Linked DNA regions of Homo sapiens: region 1 is linked to region 2. Evidence: fine-mapped expression QTL. A gene starts in region 2. The other region holds a variant in brackets. All regions are shown on one strand. Distances are between the middles of the regions. Region 1 overlaps OPRD1 (opioid receptor delta 1). Region 2 holds the start of EPB41 (erythrocyte membrane protein band 4.1).

Region 1 (5,375 bases), 57 kb before region 2:
GTTGGACTAAGACATCCACATCACAGATGTCTCTTGTGAGCCTGCTTTTTTTTTTTTTGAGACAGAGTCTCACCCTGTCACCCAGGCTGGGGTGCAGTGGCATGATCTAGGCTCACTGCAACCTCCGCCTCCTGGGTGCAAGCAATTCTTCTGTCTCAGCCTCCTAAGTAGCTGGGATTACAGGAGCATGCCACTACGCCCGGCTAATTTTTGTATTTTAGTAGAGACGGGGTTTCACCGTGTTAGTCAGGCTGGTCTCGAACTCCTGACCTCGTGATCCACCCACCTCAGCCTCCCAAAGTGCTGGAATTACAGGCATGAGCCACTGCGCCTGGCTGAGAGCCTGCTTTTTTGCCGGGCACTGCTGGTAGGCCCAAGGGTACAGCAGGGAACAAAATGGACGAAGTCTTCTGGCTTCAGGGAACTTACATGGGCGAGAGACCCAAGTGGGCAGAAAAGAAGATGAATGTAAGTCAGGAAGTGGTTTGTGCTGTAATGAAAAATGAAGCCGCTGAAGGAGCTAGAGAGAGTTGGTGGGGAGGATGGTACTTTAGATAGAGTGGTCAGGGAGGGCCTCCCTGAGGAGGTGACATTTGAATAGAGTCCTGAATTAAGTGATGGAGCAAGCCATGCAAAATATGGGGGGACCGGGGTTCCAGGCAGAGGCAAGAGCAAGTCCAGAGGCCCCGAAGTGGGGAGGTGGGAGCGGGCTTGACGTGTCCAGGGAACATCAAAGAGGCCAGTGTGTGGCAGGGGCACATCGGTGGAGGGGAACATGCTGGGAACTGAGATCCCAAAGGTAGTCGGGGCAGCTTGCAGAACAGAGAGAATTTTGGGAAGTCGCTGGGGGACTGAGAGCAGGGGAGTGGCATGATTTGTCTTGGGGCTGGAGAAGGGAGTCTACGGTGGCCAGAAGGACGGGGCGTGGCTGTGGGTGGAGGGGAGAGAGGGGGGCCGTGAGGAGAGGAGCCCGGGGCCCTACCTGGCGGGCAATCAGCGCTGGGCCGCTCAGCCCGCTTGGACCAACTACAGCAGCTTCATCACCCACTTCCCAGCATCCCAGCCCCCTCTGGGAATGGAAGGATCCTTCACAAATCAAAATAGCAGGCAAAGAACAGCCTCTAATTGTTCTGCGTAAGAGCAGAGAAATTAGACGAGTCAGCTGTGGGGTTGAGACCGCCTCCCACACAGCTGTGATCCCACACCCCACTGAAGACACTTCCTGAGACTTGCAATTCTGCTGTATCTGAGCAAAACTTTTTCCTTCTCCAGCCCCAGAGCAAATGACAGCTATTTGGGAGGGAGTAGGATAGATGCTGCCCTGGAGGACAATGAGTGAGTCAATTTCTTTTCAACCAAAAATACCAGTCACTTCATGCAGGAACAGCCTTAGCTGATGCGAGTTTATTCCGTCATTCAAAAACACTGAGTGCCTCGTCCTAGGTGTCCAGGGCTGGGCATGGGATCAGAGCGATTCTAAAGGAATGGAGGCATACAGTATGGGGCCACCCTTGGGGTGGTGGAAAGAGGGAGCGTGGGAGTCAGGAGGTCTCAGTTCTCGCCTTGGCTCCGCCACTGTTGCTGTGTGACCTTGGGTGAGTCCTGCTGCCTCTCTGGGCTTCAATCTCCCTGTCTCTCCCAAATGGAGGCTTTAGGCTACATAGTAATTCTCAAACTTTTGAGTTCATAAGAATCACTTGGGGTGAGGAGGTGCTTCTTAAAGATGAAGATTCCCAGGCCCCAGTTCCAGAGATAAAGATCGCTCAGATCTGAGGTGCAGTTCAGGACCCTGCATTTCTTCCAGGCTCTTCCGGTAATTCTGAAGCGATACCTCAGGCCACGCTTTAATAAAATCACTTCCCCTCAATGTGTCTCTCTTCCTGCTCTGGAATTCAAGGAGTCACTCATGTAACCCTCCTCTGGGTATCTCAGATCACTCCAGAGGCATGAGAGCAGCGTCATATAGCCCTGTCTCGGGGTGCCCGTGTGTTGCTGTGGTGGTGACACTGCATTTGGGAAGGTCTGGCTCAGTGTATGCAGTCTCCCCCAGGCTACCTGTTGCCCTGCCCAGGCCCTGGTGCAGAAGGGGCCATGGCTGTAAACTGGCCAAACAAGGGGCCAACTGTAATGTAGATAGCTGTGCAGGGCAGAGAGCATGGAGGGATGCTGGGAGTGCTGGGTGCAGAGTTTGGCTATAGACATCTGGCCTGGACCCCTGGGCTCATGCCTTGGGTTGGATGTGTGACCCTGTCACCTGCTCCGCTTCCCCACACCACTGTGGATGGGAAGAGGGATGCACTGTGGCTTCTGCAGAGAGGTGAGTCCAGTTGCATGGGGATGAAGAGGCCTGGATGGAGCCGCAGGAAGGACTGGGGGCTCTGGTCTACCACCGAGGACACCCAGGGGGTCTCAGACCCCAGCCAATCTACTAGGCAGTGTCCCTTCCTCAGAGTTGACCAATCATACTCCCCAAAGGCTAGGTCAGTGCCAGGAGCTAGAGAATCAAGTCACTCTGGTCTAGCCCCCAGCTCCATTCTTCACCTGTGAAGAAAAAGAACAGCGATTGTGTCCAGAGTGCTCTCCATGCATCAGGCTTGGAGCTAAGTGCTGTGTTAGCTTATTAAATTTTCACAGCCATCCTAAGAGGTTGCTACAAACATTACCCCTCTTTTTACAGTTATGGATGCAGA[G/A]CCTTAGAGAGTTCAAGTTTCTAACTCAGAGTCACTCAGCTAATATAATAAGTAGTAGAGGCAGGATTAGAACCCAGATTTGCTTTCTGCTGGAGCCCAGTTTTATTTTTAAACATATTGCTTAGTACCTTTCAGAAGATAAGTATTTTTCTTTTTCTTTTCTTTTATTTACTTATTTATTTTTGAGACAGTGTCTTGCTCTGTCAACCACTCCGGAGTACAGTGGTACGATCTTGGCTTGCTGCAACCTCTGCCTCCTGGGCTCAAGCGACCCTCCCACCTCAGTCTCCTGAGTGATGGGACTATAGGCACTCACCACCATGCCTGGCTAATTTTTGTATTATTATTATTATTATTGTTATTTGTAGATATGGGGTTTCACTGTGTCGCCCAGGGTGGTTTTGAACTAGGCTCAAGCAATCCACCTGCCCTGCCTTGGCCCCCCAAAGTGCTGGGATTACAGGCATGAGCCACTGCACCTGGCTTAGGATTTTTCTTTTTTGTTTTTGAGACGGAGTCTCGGTCTGTCGCCCAGGCTGGAGTGCAATGGCACTATCTCGGCTCACTGCAACCTCTGCCTCCCGGGTTCAAGCAGTTCTCTTGCCTCAGCCTCTCGAGTAGCTGGGACAACAGGCGTGCACCACTACGCCCAGCTAATTTTTGTATTTTTTGTAGAGACAGGGTTTCACCATGTTGGTTGGTCAGGATGGTCTCAATCTCTGGACCTCGTGATCCGCCCACCTCGGCCTCCCAAAGTGCCGGGATTACAGGTGTGAGCCACCACACCCGGCCTAGGATTTTTCTTTTTTTTTCTTTTTTTTTTTTTTTGAGACGGAGTCTCGCTTCTGTGGCCCAGGCGGGAGTGCAGTGGCGCAATCTCGGCTCACTGCAAGCTCCGCCTCCCGGGTTCACGCCATTCTCCTGCCTCAGCCTCCCGAGTAGCTGGGACTACAGGCGCCCACCATCACGCCCGGCTATTTTTTTTGTATTTTTAGTAGAGAGGGGGTTTCACCGTGTTAGCCAGGATGGTCTCGATCTCCTGACCTCGTGATCCGCCCGCCTCGGCCTCCCAAAGTGCTGGGATTACAAGCGTGAGCCACCGCGCCCGGCCAGGATTTTTCTTAAAACACCTTCTGCCAAAGTTATTCACAACCAGAGAAATCCTTTTGCTTCTGTTGTCGGGGAAAGGAGCGATGCCAAATCAGATAGTGCAGGGTTCTAGTCCCACCTTTGCCCCAACCCTTTTTTTTTTTTTTTTTTGAGACAGAGCTTCGCTTTTATCGCTCAGGCTGAAGTGCAATGGCGCAATCTCGGCTCACTGCAACCTCTGCCTCCCAGGTTCAAGCAATTTTCCTGCCTCAGCCTCCCAAGTAGCTGGAATTACAGGCACCCACCACCACACCCAGCTAATTTTTGTATTTTTAGTAGAGATGGGGTTTCGTCTTGTTAGCCAGGATGGTCTTGAACTCTTGACCTCAGGTGATCCACCCGCCTTGGCCTCCAAAAGTGCTGGGATTACAGTTGTGAGGCACCATGCCTAGCCTCCCCTGACCTTTTGCATGTCCTTAGGAAAGCTACTTCCCTTCCTTGAGTTTCATGTGAAACTGAAATCTGTGAAATGGGATTAATTACACATGCATTTCTTTCTAAGGTACACTAAGATGAAGACGGCCACCAACATCTACATCTTCAACCTGGCCTTAGCCGATGCGCTGGCCACCAGCACGCTGCCTTTCCAGAGTGCCAAGTACCTGATGGAGACGTGGCCCTTCGGCGAGCTGCTCTGCAAGGCTGTGCTCTCCATCGACTACTACAATATGTTCACCAGCATCTTCACGCTCACCATGATGAGTGTTGACCGCTACATCGCTGTCTGCCACCCTGTCAAGGCCCTGGACTTCCGCACGCCTGCCAAGGCCAAGCTGATCAACATCTGTATCTGGGTCCTGGCCTCAGGCGTTGGCGTGCCCATCATGGTCATGGCTGTGACCCGTCCCCGGGGTGAGTGAGTGAGTGCACCATGGCACAGGCCACTGACCACAGGAGGCAGTACATGGGCCTTTGTGGGCTTGCAGGGCACTTACCAGGGTGAGTGTAGGTGGCTCATCAGCAGAGGTTGGATTCTGATCAAGATCAATGATGGTGTGGTGGCTGGCCAGTGGGAGTGTAGAAGAAGGTCAACCAATGGGAATGGGAATAGCTGGCCAGGGGGGCATGCGGATGGTTGACTATTGTGAAGATGAATGACTGATCAGTGGTCATATGGGTTGCTGGCCAAAGGGAATGTATGAATTTATGAAGGAGATTATGGATGGCTGGTTATGTACATGTAGGTGGCTGGCCAGGGATGTGTGGATGTATAGAGAGATGGTTGGATGTCCAGTGAGGTGAGGGTGTCACTGACCAGTGAGCAGTGGAGGCTGCAAGATCTGTGGTCCCATTTTAAACTCCCTTTCATCCTAATTTGAAAACCACTGGCCTGGATGACCAAAGCAAAGCCTAGAGAATAGCCTGCAGGGAATGACAAATAGGAGCTAAAATGGTAATTATAGTAACTGCCTGTATCAGGGGAGCTGCAATAACATTCTCCAAAGCTCAGGGGCTTAACACTGTAGAGGTTTCTCTCTCACTCCCATCACAATCCAGTGTGAGTAGGAGGAGCACAGACATTCAGGGACCCAGCCT
Region 2 (5,375 bases):
TCTGAATAAAAAGCACAGCTGAACCTGAGGACTTGAGGCAGGAGACCAGAGTATTTAAGAACAGGTGTGGCCAGGCATGGTGGCTCATGCCTGTAATCCCAGCACTTTGGGATGCTGAGGTGGGTGGATCACCTGAGGCTGGGGGTTCGAGACCAGCCTGACCAACATGGAGAAACCCCATCTCTATTAACAATACAAAATTAGCCAGGCGTGGTGCACATGCCTGTAATCCCAGCTACTCACGAGGCTGAGGCAGGAGAATCGCTTGAACCTGGGAGGCAGAGGTTGCAGTGAGGTGAGGCGAGATCGTGCCATTGCACTCCAGCCTGGGCAAAAAGAGCGAAACCCCTTCTCAAAAAAAAACAGGTGCTTCACCCCTCATACACAGAATGACCCTGGCCAAGTCACCTGACCTCACTAAGACTCAGTTTCCTTATATGTAAAATGAGGATGTTCATTAACTCATTCAACAAATATTTATTGAGCGTATACTGTTCTGGGAGATGAATACAGATACAGTCCCTGCCTTCCTGAGCTTGCAGTCTAGTGGGTCTAGATTACAGCAATTTATTTGAGAGGCACAATAAATAATAAATATATAGTAGAAAGTCAAGTAGGGTAAGTGCTATGAAGCAAATTAAAGCAGGATAAGGGTGTTTGAGTGGAGGGTGTTTTAGATGGTATAGTCAGGTGGTTTTCAAGGGGTTTTATGATGTTTCAAATGGACAATTTACATAACGTGCTCAGCTCAGTGCTAACAACAATTGCATGCTTAACAAATATATTATTATATTTGCCAGTTCCACACCTCTCAGTCCACATTTTAGTCTCTGAATAGTAATAATAATTAACACACATAGATCTTACTATGAGCTAGGCACTGCTCTAAGTCCTTTACATATTTTAACTCATTTAATTCTGTTTTCCTTTTTCTTTTTTTTGAGATGGAGTCTTGCTCTTGTCACCCAACCTGGAGTTCAATGGCATGATCTCGGCTCTCTGCAACCTCCACCTCCTGGGTTCAAGTGATTCTCCTGCCTCAACCTCCGAGAATAACTGAGATTACAGGTGCCTGCCACCAGGCCCAGCTAAGTTTTGTATTTTTAGTAGAGATGGGGTTTCACCATTTGGCCAGGCTGGTCTCGAACTCCTGACCTCAGGTGATCCGCCTGCCTCAGCCTCCCAAAGTTCTGGGATTACAGGCATGAGCCACCATGCCTGGCCTAATTCTTACAGTAACTCTGTGAGGTGGGAACTATTATTATCCTTCTCCCTCCCCCAACCCTCGTTTTTGTTTTTAGGGATGGAGTCTTGCTCTGTTGCCCAAGCTGGAGTGGAATGGCATGATCCTAGCTCACTGTGGCCTTGAACTCCTGTGCTTGAGCAATCCTCCCACCTCAGCCTCCCACTATAGGTGGGAGTCCCAGCTACTTGGACATATTATCCCCTTTTATGGTGTTGAAAAATGAGGCACAGCCGGGCGCGGTGGCTCAAGCCTGTAATCCCAGCACTTTGGGAGGCCGAGAAGGGCGGATCACGAGGTCAGGAGATCGAGACTAACACGGTGAAACCCCGTCTCTACTAAAAATACAAAAATTAGCTGGGCGTGGTGGTACACGCCTGTAGTCCCAGCTACTCGGGAGGCTGAGGCAGGAGAATCGCTTGAACCCGGGAGGCAGAGGTTGCAGTGAGCCGAGATTCCGGCACCGCACTCCAGCCTGGTGACAGAGCGAGACTCCGTCTCAAATAAATAAATAAATAAATAAAAGAAAAATGAAAATCAAACCATTAGAAAAGGCTGGAGACTAAGAATTGAACCCAGGCAATCTGTTTCCAGAGGCTGTGCTGGGATCGTGAAGGGGCTGTGATTAGATATCAGGAATGTCTAGCTGGCATCTACAGACTCTGCTGTCAGATGGCCTGGCTTCTTATCCTGTCAGTTTTAAGTCTCTCTGCTTCAGTTTCCTCATCTCTAAAATAGAACACCAGATCCTATCTTACCTTCTAGGTATCATGCTTAAAACAAAAGCCTTCTTTCTGCACTGTGGGTCCGAAGCCTGTTCACAGACCAGCCTAGCAGGGAGTAGGAAGGGTCAAGGGGTCTCTGACACTTCTGGAAGGAAATAAAGACACACTAAGCAATTGTCAGAGCAACCCTCAGTTCATCTGGAGACCAGACCTCGGAAGCTAGGTCTTTATAATGTTGAGATTGCCAGGGGGGAATTAGGAGATCCTTAAATGCAGAAGACAGGTTCAATCTTGGCGTGGTCTCAACACTTAGCTTCCATTTCAGGCCTTACACAGCTGGCACGAGAGGTAAAGTCTCATCGAATGTCAGGGTTGGAAGGGCGCCTAGAGACAGTCAAACTAGTGGATGGGGAAACTGAGGTACAGAGAAGCTGAGTGACTTACCCGAGGTCACTAAGCGTTTAGGGGGAGTCAGTTGGGGTAGCCTGGCTACAACCTCTACGCGAGTTACTTCCCTGAGGCTTCCAAATCTCGGCCTCTTACTTGGAAGGAGGAAAGGGCCTCACCGTCCAGGGCTCTAGCTGCCTCATGCCCCACGTGGGTGCTGCGGGATCCCGGAACACCCCGGCTCCAGACCGGGTTCGACTTGCGCGTGCGCACACGCGGCCAGCCCCTTGCCTTTTCCTCTCTCTTTTTCGTTCCCCTCTCCTCTCCTTACCGGCCTAGGGGAGGGGGGAAACAAGGGGAGCTAGAAGTTGGCCTCAGCCAATGGGCGGACGGGCCGCGGGCCCGGCCCCCTCCTTCCCTCCGGCGCGGCCCAATAGAAATTTACTACAATGTTGTGGCGAACTGAGGGGGAGGGGCGCGGGCCGGCGGGCGGGCTGCGGGCCGGGCTGGCCTCGCCTCGCAGAGGGAAGGCGGGAGGGCGCGCGCCAGGGTCGCTCGCTCGCTCCCTCCCTCCGCTGGTGCGTTTAGTCAGTCAGCCAGCAGCAGCCGGCGGGCCCGCGAGCCGCAGAGGGCCCGAGCCTCGGACGCCGGCGCCTCCTCCTGCCATTGTTCGTCGGGCTGCAGCAGTGGCGGGCGCAGGAGCCCGGCCCCGGAGCCACCGGTGAGGCGAGGCGGCGGCGGCGGCGCGGGAGCCGGGGCGGTGGGCGTGGAGCTGTCCCCGTGGGGACGGTCCTGGCGGCCGCGGCGGCGCTGCAGCCTCTTTGTCTGCAACCCCCGACAGGCCCCGGGCCGGGGCGCGGGCTCTCCCGCGGAGGAGCCTCGTGTGCACGCCGAGTCGCCAGCCGGGACGCGGCCCGAGGAGCGAGGGGCGGGCCAGAGCCGCTGAGGAAAGGGGAAGGGGTTGCGTCGCGGGAGTGTTGGAAAGTTAGGCTTGAGATGTATTTTTGACGGTCCCCTCGGGTGCGTCAATCACGGTGCGGTGTGCAGGAGCCTCGGGAGGAAACCAAATGCGGAGAATCGCAGGTTTCAGACGGTGAAGGTGTTGCGTGCAGCCGCGGAGCGATTTCTTCCTGGCGAGGGAGCTGGGCTGTCTGCAGAAGTCAGGCGGAATCTGAGGACTGCAGGGAGCCCTGGCAAGACTTCGCAGGCCTTCCCGCCACCGACGCCTGCATCATTGAAAAACATGTTCCCCCTTAGTCTTCTGGGTTCCCAGCGAGCAGAGGGTTAAATCTATTCTCTCAGCGTCGTGACCTCCTTTTTCAGTTCGCGCATCTGTCGGCTTGGAAATCTTCCTCCGTGCTCGCTGGGCTGCTGTACCTGTGGAGAGGCCGGGTCTGGGCTCGCCCTCCGAGATTGACCAGCAGGCCATTATTCCTGGGGAGGTTTTGCCAAAACAGGTCATGCTCCCCAAGAACAGGCATTCTCTTGAGAAAAAGTGATCTCACGTGAAACAGATTGCTGATGGACTGGTTTCTGGCCACATGATAGCGACTGTCATCCTGTTGTTTCTTTAACTGTACCCTGTACCCTGCCATAAATGACTAGTCTGTGGAGACTTGTTTTTTGGCATGTAGTTGTTCATTAGGAGATAGTTTTTTCTTTTTCCTTTTTTTTTTTCAGATGCTTTTTTTTTTTTTTTTTTTTGTAGTCTGGGTGATTTCACAGCTGCTATTTTCTTCCCTTCTGTTTTTAGGGAAAATTGCAAGAAATGGTTGTGTCTTGTGTCTTGGATATTATTATAGTGGATTTATACTCTCTTGAGGATGTACTGTAGTCAATGCTGTTGCTCATTGTTGTTTTCTGTATTCTCAGTCCTGGCAAAAATTTTAGTTGGTTTGATCCCTTTAATCAAAAGCAGGATATATAGCCCGTATATGTTTCTTCCCGTCCCAGTTTTGTTAATGTAGCACTAACCCCTACTTTTTATGGAAACTTGATGTACTCTTCATTTTCCTTTTCTGTAAATTGAAAGTGTAATCAGTTCTTCGCCAGTTGTAAAATTTTTGGTTTGGGGTGTTATTAATATAATCCATGTAGCGTACATGCTATCTGGCGTACAGTAAGCACTCAATAAATGGCAGATTCAAAAATAGATGTAATAACTGAACACCAGATTGCCTTAGAATCAAAGTAGTTAATTCAGTGTGCTTTCTATAAGAAGCTTATAATTAAGGTAAATATAGATATTATTCATACACCTGGGGAAACAAGTACAGTATATCTTTGGCACTATTAAAAGTGAACTATGTCGGGCACGGTGGCTCACGCCTGTAATCCCAGCACTTTGGGAGGCCAAGGCGGGTGGATCACTTGAGGTCAGGAGTTCGAGACTAGCCTGGCCAGCATGGTGAAACCCCATCTGTACTAAAAATGCAAAAAAGTAGCTGGGTGTGGTGGCATGTGCCTGTAATCCCACCTACTCAGTAGGTGGAGGCAGGAGAATCGCTTGAACCTAGGAGGCGGAGGTTGCAGTGAGCCGAGATTGCACCACTGCACTTCAACCTGGGCAACAGAGCAAAACTGTCTCAAAAAAAGGTGAACTCATTGTTGAACATAAGTTCAGAATGCCAACCTTCTGATTCCTCTGTCTTCTACCAACAAAACTATACATTTTTCCTTGTATGTTTGAATTCAGGCTTAGAAATAAATGTTTTTAATCTGTAGGTTTTACCAAAATTCTCCCAACAATTTTTTTTTTTTTTAAACAGGGTCTCATTCTGTCACCCAGGCTGGAGTGCAGTGGCATGATCACGGCTCACTGCAGCCTTAAACTCCTGGGCTCAAGTGATCCTCCTGCCTCAGCCTCCCTAGTAGCTGGGACTATAGGCGTGTGCCCCCATGCTTGGCTAATGTCTTTTTATTTTTTGTAGAGACAGTCTCACTATGTTGCCTAGGGTGGTCTTGAATTCCTGGACTCAAGAGATCCTCCTCCCTGGGCCTCCCAAAGTGCTGGGATTACA

What was found. PIP is the estimated chance that this variant, and not a neighbour inherited with it, causes the effect.
Region 1: its variant is the best candidate, but not a certain one, in a credible set for the expression of EPB41 in whole blood (TOPMed, PIP 0.58).

Annotation. Positions count from the first base shown.
Region 1 is chr1:28,854,613-28,859,987 of GRCh38, forward strand. OPRD1 (opioid receptor delta 1) reads left to right here. Exons shown (of 3, transcript NM_000911.4): 2 at 4,342-4,691. Among named protein-coding and RNA genes, the nearest start is that of OPRD1, 45 kb to the left of the region's middle. RefSeq lists an enhancer at 337-838. The variant G/A (reference allele first, on the strand shown) is at 2,691.
Region 2 is chr1:28,911,693-28,917,067 of GRCh38, forward strand. EPB41 (erythrocyte membrane protein band 4.1) reads left to right here and starts at 2,877. Exons shown (of 21, transcript NM_001376013.1): 1 at 2,877-3,076. RefSeq lists a silencer at 2,642-3,301 and an enhancer at 3,522-3,681.